2 separate regions of the Homo sapiens genome follow, and region 1 is linked to region 2. A link means that fine-mapping ties the variant in region 2 to the expression of a gene that starts in the linked region. Tissue or cell type: lung. Region 2 holds a variant in brackets; the other region holds the start of a gene. All regions are shown on one strand. Distances are from middle to middle.

Evidence for each region. PIP is the estimated chance that this variant, and not a neighbour inherited with it, causes the effect.
Region 1: it holds the start of RASAL2-AS1, and the variant in region 2 is fine-mapped to the expression of RASAL2-AS1 in lung (TOPMed, PIP above 0.99). The same link has a PIP of 0.9 or more in subcutaneous fat.

The regions. Positions count from the first base shown.
Region 1 is chr1:178,091,671-178,095,848 of GRCh38, reverse strand. RASAL2-AS1 (RASAL2 antisense RNA 1) reads left to right here and starts at 1,856. Exons shown (of 2, transcript NR_027982.1): 1 at 1,856-2,288; 2 at 2,437-4,178. RASAL2 (RAS protein activator like 2) reads right to left here and starts at 1,745. Exons shown (of 18, transcript NM_170692.4): 1 at 1,155-1,745. The coding sequence starts at 1,356. RefSeq lists silencers at 1,307-1,366, 1,517-1,676, 1,747-2,046, 2,097-2,146 and an enhancer at 1,768-2,269.
Region 2 is chr1:178,200,653-178,204,830 of GRCh38, reverse strand. The region is part of intron 1 of RASAL2 (RAS protein activator like 2); the gene reads right to left. Among named protein-coding and RNA genes, the nearest start is that of RASAL2, 110 kb to the right of the region's middle. The variant C/T (reference allele first, on the strand shown) is at 1,887.

The DNA.
Region 1 (4,178 bases), 110 kb after region 2:
GTGACTCGATCTGCCCCAAATCCCATAGCCATTTAGTGGTAGAACTGAGACAAGAACTGAGATCTCTGGACTCCTAGTTCTATGATCTTTGCGATGGACATTAAGTCTTCAAATCAACTGAACTACACAGAAAAAAACCTAAGTCTTGGTCACTCTTGAATAGTAAGCATATACCCTGTTCAGAAAGATGAAAGAAAAAAACATAAGGTACTTGATCACTACAGGCTTAGATGCACAAGACTGCAGGATAACATCTTAACATTGTGTTTGATCCCAGGTGCTTCAAATTTGCCATCTTATACTCAGCCACGTTACTAATGTCTTCTGCAGTCACGTGAGCTAGGCGATAAACATCTTGCCGTTTCAATATTTTGGAAAGCCACAGCTCAGTCCTGAATGCCAGGCTATAAATCCTTAAGCTATGAGTTTTCAAAACCAGCATGGTTTTAGTGCTGCCACAAGGCTCACCCTAATAGAATCTCATCATTCAGTTTTAATTAAAGAGGTGGTTACCAGGAATGCAGAAAGGGAAAGTTTTAGTGTGTTCATCACTTTTAACCTGCTGAGTGGCAACCCAGTCACTTTACAACGAGATTCAGAAACAATAGTGTAATCTGAAACAATCCACACCCGTTGGAATAAGTGGTTGCTTTTAGAGAGAGTGAGGTTCAGGCAGAGGTTATAGATTAGTCTTGCTCCCACCAAATACATAGTTTGCATTTTTTTCATTCATTAGCTTATCCTCTGCTTTTTCATAATATCTTGGTTTCCAGTCTTGCCTCATTCAACAATAAAAAGAGACGAAAATCCATTCACTTGGTTTCATGGAGTTTTTCCATCATACCTTCTTGAAGATTGATTGCCTGGCTGTTCCCTTGAAGTAATCGCCTAAGAATTACGTCTTGGATAGCCCAACTCCCGCATTAAACTTACTGCAGGTGTCTGAAGAGGTCCAAAGACCATACTGAGTGACATCCCTGCCCAAGTGATAGTCTGAAGAAACTTGTCAGAAATGCACCCCCAGAACAAAAAGGGATGTGGGAAACTGACCTAGCACGGATGAGGACTGGGAATGAGCCTGTGACTTAGGGAATGAATTTCAGCCCAAGCAAAAATAGGAAACACCAGCCTCTAAGACGGCCTGTGGTCCTTACCGTACACCCGGACCCAGCTCTGTTGCTGGCACACGGACTCCAGAAGGATCCGATCCAACATGCCACCGGCGACGGCTCCACTGACTGGGACAACCGCGTCCAGGTCCTCCGGGGGCAGCGGCGAGTCGGACTCCAGCGCCGGGAACATCTCCGGCCAGGACAGCGCCTCCGCGGCTCCTCCGGACGACGGAGAGAGCTCCATGGTGCCCCGAGGCGGGAGGGGGACGAGGCGGCGGCTTCGGGGCGGGCTGGCGCGCGGCTCCGCGCCCTGCCTGCGGTAAGGGGAGGAGGAGAGCGCGCAGCGAGGGCAGGGACCCGAGCGGCAGCCGGCGCGGACACCTCTCACCTCCTTCCCCGTCGCCCACTGCCCGAGGCTCGGGCGATGCAGCCCACCTGCAGTCGGCGGGCGGGACCCAGGCCGGGAGGAGGATCCAGCGTGGCCCCGACCAAGGGTGGGTCCGGGCTCAGGTGTGTGTGGGTCCCTCCCGGGAGAGGACGCAGAAGAACCCGGGAGGGGAGGCTCGCCCTCCCACCTCCTCGGAGCCGCCTTCTTCAGCCCCGCCGGCGTCTCTCGCGGTCAGACCAGGCTCTGGCTGGGGATGGAGCGGGGCCGGGCAGGGCTGGGCTTGGGGGCGTCGCCGCCAGGGGCCGCCCCCTCTGACCGGCTCCCGCCGCCGCCGCCTCAGAAGCTCCGAGTGCCCGTTCCCTCAGCCTGAGGAGGGGTAGGGGGCGGTGGCCCCGGGTTCTAGCCCGCCTGTCCTCGGCCCCCACTTCTGGAATGAGCCTGCCCGCCCCCTGACTCTCAGGCCACAGCTCCGGCCACAGCTCTGGCTCCTGCTCCGCGGCGGATCCCACAAACCCGGCAGCCACGGCGGTGGCGGTGGCGGTGGCGGTGGCGGTGGCGGCGGCGGCGGCGGCGGCAGCGGCAGGCGGCATCCCAGGGTGATAGGCTGAAGCAATCGAGGGCCGAGAGCCCGGCCGCGTGTGCACTCGAGTAACGAAGCCGGGGAGGGACTGCGCCGCAGGCAGGAAAAGTCGGACACCGAATTATTCATCCGGCCTGTCCCGCCTACTTTCCAAGTACCCTCCCAGGGATAGCCGGGTATTGAGCGGTCCGGGTCTCTGCTGCTCAAAGTAAAGACCGTTTGAGAAGGCGGGGAGGTAAAAGGGTGCGGGAAATTTAAACAGAAAAGAAAGGAGCTTCCCTTCCTTCTCACACCTTTCCTATTTATTTGTTTCTTTCTTTCTTTATGGGCCAACGTTTCTTTCTTATTGGACAAAGAGATCGAAGAAGCTGCTTTATCTTACAGTCACCCAAGGGGGAGCGCCTTCTTCCTTCCCAGAGTGGAGTGGCAGTGGGTCCGGGATTCTGGGATATGCACAGGGTCTGCGCCCTGCGCCCTGTCCGCGCTGAAGCTGAACTTGTCATTGGTTTGCAACAGCATGGTGAAGAAGTGTGGTGTGGATGGACGGACGGGCCTCTCAGGCACATGAAATACTCAAAGCCCAGTATTAACCAAACATGTTTCTCTGTTTTGTCTTTGATCTTTGTGCAGTGTGTTGGCTTTTTTCCTTTAATGATGTCACTTGTATTTTATTTTTGGTTTATTTGTAGACTGTCTCCCTCCTTGGCCATGGCTTTACTTTTATGTCCACCCAAGGAGAGTTTCACCAGTTTAGGTTTAAGAAATTACTGACAAGTTAACAATAATAATTTCAAAATTGAACAGTAATAACTTAAACCGTGCCTTGGACATAGTAGATCTCCAACAGTTTTTCTTGAATGTGGCTACCTAATGTGGAACAAGATTTTTCATAATTACATGTTGCTATTTTTAATACCTTTTGGGAGGTTCTTTAGTCCCCCCCGCCCTTTCTCCCTACGTTGCACAAAGAGACTGGTCTACAAGGGGTCCTGTTAGTTTTCTGGTTTTGTGGGGTCCTGGAATATTGTTTGGGCTTATTGAGAGTTAACAAGGATGTATTTTGTGAGTTTCTCCAAAGTCTTATTTAGAGTAATAGTATTTCAAAGCAAGAAGTGTTTTAGAGAGAACATCATTCTGCCTCTTGTTTAACAGGTGAGGAAACTGAGGAAAAACCAGCTTACCTGGCTAATCAACCACAAGTACAGATAGTTCCACAATGACTCAATGGATATTACTTCAACTTTGTTCCCTCAAGAAACTTTTGTGATTAAGCTTGTTGATTTGTGGCTTGATGGTTTACAGGAATGGTCATTTTTAATATCTAGGACCCTGCTTGCTTGCTTGCTTGCTTGCTTACTAGACTGGCTGCATAGTCAGTCTTCCACGTGTAAACAACAGTGTGTGCTTTAGTGGATAAGAGATGTTGAGTGCTGAGATTTCAAGGCTCAGCACTGAGTAGACCTAGAGCATTTTTATTTATACTAAATTAATGCCATGGTAACATAAGTTAGACAGCAAGTGAATATGGCATCAAATGTACAAAGTTGAGTATCTCTTTACTAGTCAATGTATAAGGAATTTATTTACCCAAGCAATTATCTTAAAAACAGCATTACAAGTGGTATGCGAAACATTTCCAGAATTTATTTCCACATCTGCTCTTTCAGTGGCATCATCCATTCCTGAGCTCAAGAAAAGGCCTCTGCCAACCGCCAGTAATCCTGCTTTTTTAGTAATCCTACTATTTTTTTTTTAACTTTAAGTTCTGGGATACATGTGCAGAACATGCAGGTTTGTTACATAGGTATACATGTGCCTATGTATACCTATGTAACATGGTGGTTACAGTAAACATGGTGGTTTACTGCATCTATCAACCCGTCATCTAGGTTTTAAGCCCTGCATTCATTAGATATTTGTCCTAATGCTCTCCCTCCCCTTTCCCCCACGCCCCGACAGGCCCCAGTATGTGATATTACCCTCCCTGTGTCCATGTGTTCTCATCGTTCAACTCCCACTTATAAGTGAGAATATGCAGAGTTTGGTTTTCTGTTGTGTTACTTTGCTTAGAATGATGGCTCCCAGCTTCATCCATGTC
Region 2 (4,178 bases):
ACACGCTAAATCACAATTGAAATTAAGTGGCAAATGATGCACCTTTTAACTTTATAAGCATTTTGTACATAATTGAAAAAACCTGTGAAACAATTTCATACATTGCTTTGATTCTTTCTGTACAGAATATAGGATGGATTTACTCAAATCTTAAAGTCAGGGTGTTTCAGATTTCAATGTTTTGCTTTTTAATTTATGCAAAATTTCAATATTTGGCTTACGAACCATCTTTCAGTTATTTAATTCCATCATCAACATCAGCAAGTAGTTTTGTTCTGGGTATCACTTTTAAAATATAAAATACTCCAGTCTGTGTAGCTGCCTAAGAAGGGTATGGCATACTATGTATCCTTGAGGAACAGGGTCAAACTATCAAAGATACAGAGATGAATAGTGTTAGTATAAGGCTTCACTTACTTAGTGCAGTGCCTGGCTTCCTCTCATGAACCTCCTGGTGTGTATTAACCATCAATATTAACTATCACAAGTCCACCCCTTGTCAACCTGAACCCATATGCATCTCCTGAGATCATAATCTCCAAATAAACACAATAATAAGGTCATAATTATGCCTAACATAATACAACTATCCTTCGTACAACCAGAGACGCACCAATCCCCAACCCAAATGTTATTACATAAAGTTAACAACACTTAAATGCCGATACAATGAAGATATTTTCTTAATACAAGTGTATAAATGTACAAATATGTTTTTAGCAAAAGGAGAAAATACTCATGACAATTATGGTCCTCATTTCTGCAACTGGCCACATGGTTGTAGCTGGTATTGATGACCTTCTTCTACTACTACCAATTCTGTATTCCCTTTGCCTTCAGCAAGCACCTCAGCAGGTCATGGTTTTTTTTCCTGGTGGAGAGACCCAAACCTTCATTCCTGAAGAGTCTGGGCCATTTGTAGTCTTGCCTGGATTGGGCTGTTGTAGTTTCCCATTGACCTTAATCACAGAGTATGGTAATACTAAGAGATGCTCCAAGGGATCTCCTGTATTCTACACATACTCTTCCTTACCTCCATTGTGGAGCAGTAGACTGATTTCATCTTGATAGTCCAGTCAATCACCCCAGCCAACACAGTAACTTCCTTCTTAGCCTGTTAACTTAAAGGTAGGAGGAGCCCAAAGTGTCCAGGTGGCAATATTAACTTCCAGTTTAATGGAATCACTGTTGTGCCTCCTGGTGGCAGTGTTCTTCCCTCTGGAACTAAGACCTCTAGGCCAGCAGAACATAATGTTGCAGGAATAGGAAGCAAAAATTGTGCTAGTGGATCACTAGGGGTGATACTGAATGGTGCCACTTTTCCATCCCTTGATTCCTGGACCTGTGAATTCTGGCTATGCAAGAAACAGTACCATGTATTAGATGCCGATTCAGAGCATGCACAGCCTTCTGGAGAACTCTGCCCCAGCCTTGCCAAGTATTCTCACCTAGATGGCATTGTAATTGTAACTTCAAAAGGCCATTCTACCGTTCTATCAATCCAGCTGCTTCAGGATGATGAGGAACATGGTAAGACCAGTGAATTCCATAAGCATGAGCCCACTGCCACACATCTTTAGCCATAAAGTGAGTGCCTTGGTCAGAGGCAATGCTGTGTGGAATACCATGACAGTGGATAAGGCATTCCTTGAGTCCACATATGGTAGTCTTGGTAGAAGCATTATGTGCAGGATAGGCAAGCCCCTATCCAGAGTAAGTGTCTATTCCAGTGAGGACAAACCTCTGCCCTTTCCATGATAGAAGAGGTCCAATATAATCGACCTGTCACCAACTAGCTGGCTGATCACCCAGAGGAATGGTGCCATTTTGAGGGCTCAGTTTTGGTCTCTGCTGCTGGCAAATTGGGCATTCAGCAGTGGCCATGG[C/T]CAAGTCAGCCTTGGTAAGTGGAAGTCCATGTTGCTGAGCCCATGCATAACCTCCACCCCTGCCACCATGACCACTTTGTTCATGGGCCCATTGGGCAATGACACAGGTGGCTGGGGAAACAGGCTGAGTGGTGCATACAGAACGAGTCATCCCATCCACTTGATTATTAAAATCCTCCTCTGCCAAGGTCACCCTTTGGTGAGCACCCACATGGGATACAAATACCTTCACAGTTTTTGACCACTCAGAGAGGCCCATCCACATACCTCTTCCCCAGATTTCTTTGTCACCAGTTTTCCAATCATGCTTCTTCCAAGTCCCTGACCATCCGGCCAAACCATTGACTATAGCCCATGACTCAGTATATAATAACACATCTGGCCACTTCTCCTTCCATGCAAAGTGCACACCCAGGTGCACTGCTTGAAGTTCTGCCCACTGGAAAGATTTTCCTTCACCGCTATCCTCCAGGGATGTCCTAGAAAGGGGCTGTAGTGCTGCAGCTGTCCACTTTCAGGTGGTGCCTGCATATTGTGCAGAACCATCTGTGAACCAGGCCTTAGTCTTCTCTTCCTCTGTCAGCTGATCATAGGGAACTCCCCATGAGGCCATCAGTGCAGGCTGGGGGAGAGAAGGCAGGGTGGCAGGAGTGAAAACCATGGGCGTTTGAGCCACTTCCTCATGTAACTTACTTGTGCCTTCAGGACCTGCTCAAGCCCGATCATGTATATACCACTTCCATTTGACGATGGATACTGTAAGTCAAACCTGAGCTAAAACTCCATTAATTACCTGACCTCCATAAGCCACTACTTTAACTGGAGGACCACAGTGATGTTTTGGGTCCCCTGGAATCAACGTCAGCTCAGAGCCAGTGTCCAATGGTCCCGGAAATGTCTGATCATTTCCCTTTCTCCAATGCACAGTTACTCTGGTAAAAGGCCAGAGGTCCCTTTGGGGAAGCAGGGAGAAAGATTTACACATAAATTGTCGGTAGAGGGATCCTTCTTCAAGGGGACCCGGCCTCCCCTTCATTCAAGGGGTTCTGGGTCTGTAAACTAGCTCAAGTCTGGAAATTGAGGAGCCATGATTCTGTTTTTATAATTCAAATTAGTTTTCTGTCCACTTGACCTGAACGTTTTCTGCTTATATAAATTAAGTAGGAATGCCGTAGGCTTCTATCAGTTTCACTTCTAGAAACACCATGATTAATTAGCCAATGGCAGAGCTCTACACAAGTCAAACTATTCTGATTGCTGCTTTGCCTCTGCTGTCCATTATGGTAGCTATGTTTACCTTGCTTTTGACAGTTGAGTGCCACCACTTGGCCCCTGCCACACTGGAATCCAATTATTCCCACTGCATTTAAATTTTGTAGTTGAACGACTGCAGTTCCCACAGTTAGATCTGGCATACAGAGAAAAGCAATCCCTATGGAGCTCTTCCAAGATGCAGATGCTGCCCTCACAAATCCATTTCGCTAAGGGTATAGCTTCTGGACTCTTCCAGCTGGGATGAGTAGGTCTAAAGTGACTAATCCACTCCAGTATCACAATCTTCCTAAACCCTTGGATCCCTTCCTCTACATTAAACCAAGGGAGATTAGGCATTTCCAGCTTACTCACAGTGGGCCATCTTTTAATTCACAATTCACCTAACCAAGCAAATGAACTATTAGAACCTTTTTTTAACTCCCCAAGCTGCCACATAAATGCAGAATCCCTACTTAGGGGGCCCAAATTGATAAATTCAGCCTGATCCAACTCTACGTTCCATCCACCATCATCCCACACCCTTAATATCCATTCCCATGCCTGTTCTCCAGATTTCTGCTTATATAAATTAGAGAACTCAGCAGTTTTTTTCGAGTGTAGCACACCTCCTTGTGGGTCACACTCTGAACCTCACCTCTAGGAGCCTGCTGGGACTTTAGTCTAATTATAGGTCTAGAAGCTCACAGGGTGTTGGAGGTGGGTCCTGGGTGTCTTGCCAGGCACCGGCCTCAGGGGACGCCATCACTGTTGCCTTAGGCAGCATATCTCCTCAAACAAAGGTGGAAAGGATGATGGCAGCATGGGTTGGGGAGGGGATGCTGCCACTACTGGGGATGAGGAAGCTGTTTCTTCTGGTAAAAAGGGTTCATCAGAGTTTACAAGCTCAGTGTCCCCAGCTTCGTCAGGGTCCTCTCACACGTCACCATTCCAAGTTGCAGGGTCCCATTCTTTTCCAGTAAATGCCCTCACTTTAATAGTAGACACCTGGCGAGGCTGTCCATGCACCTTTTGTTGCAG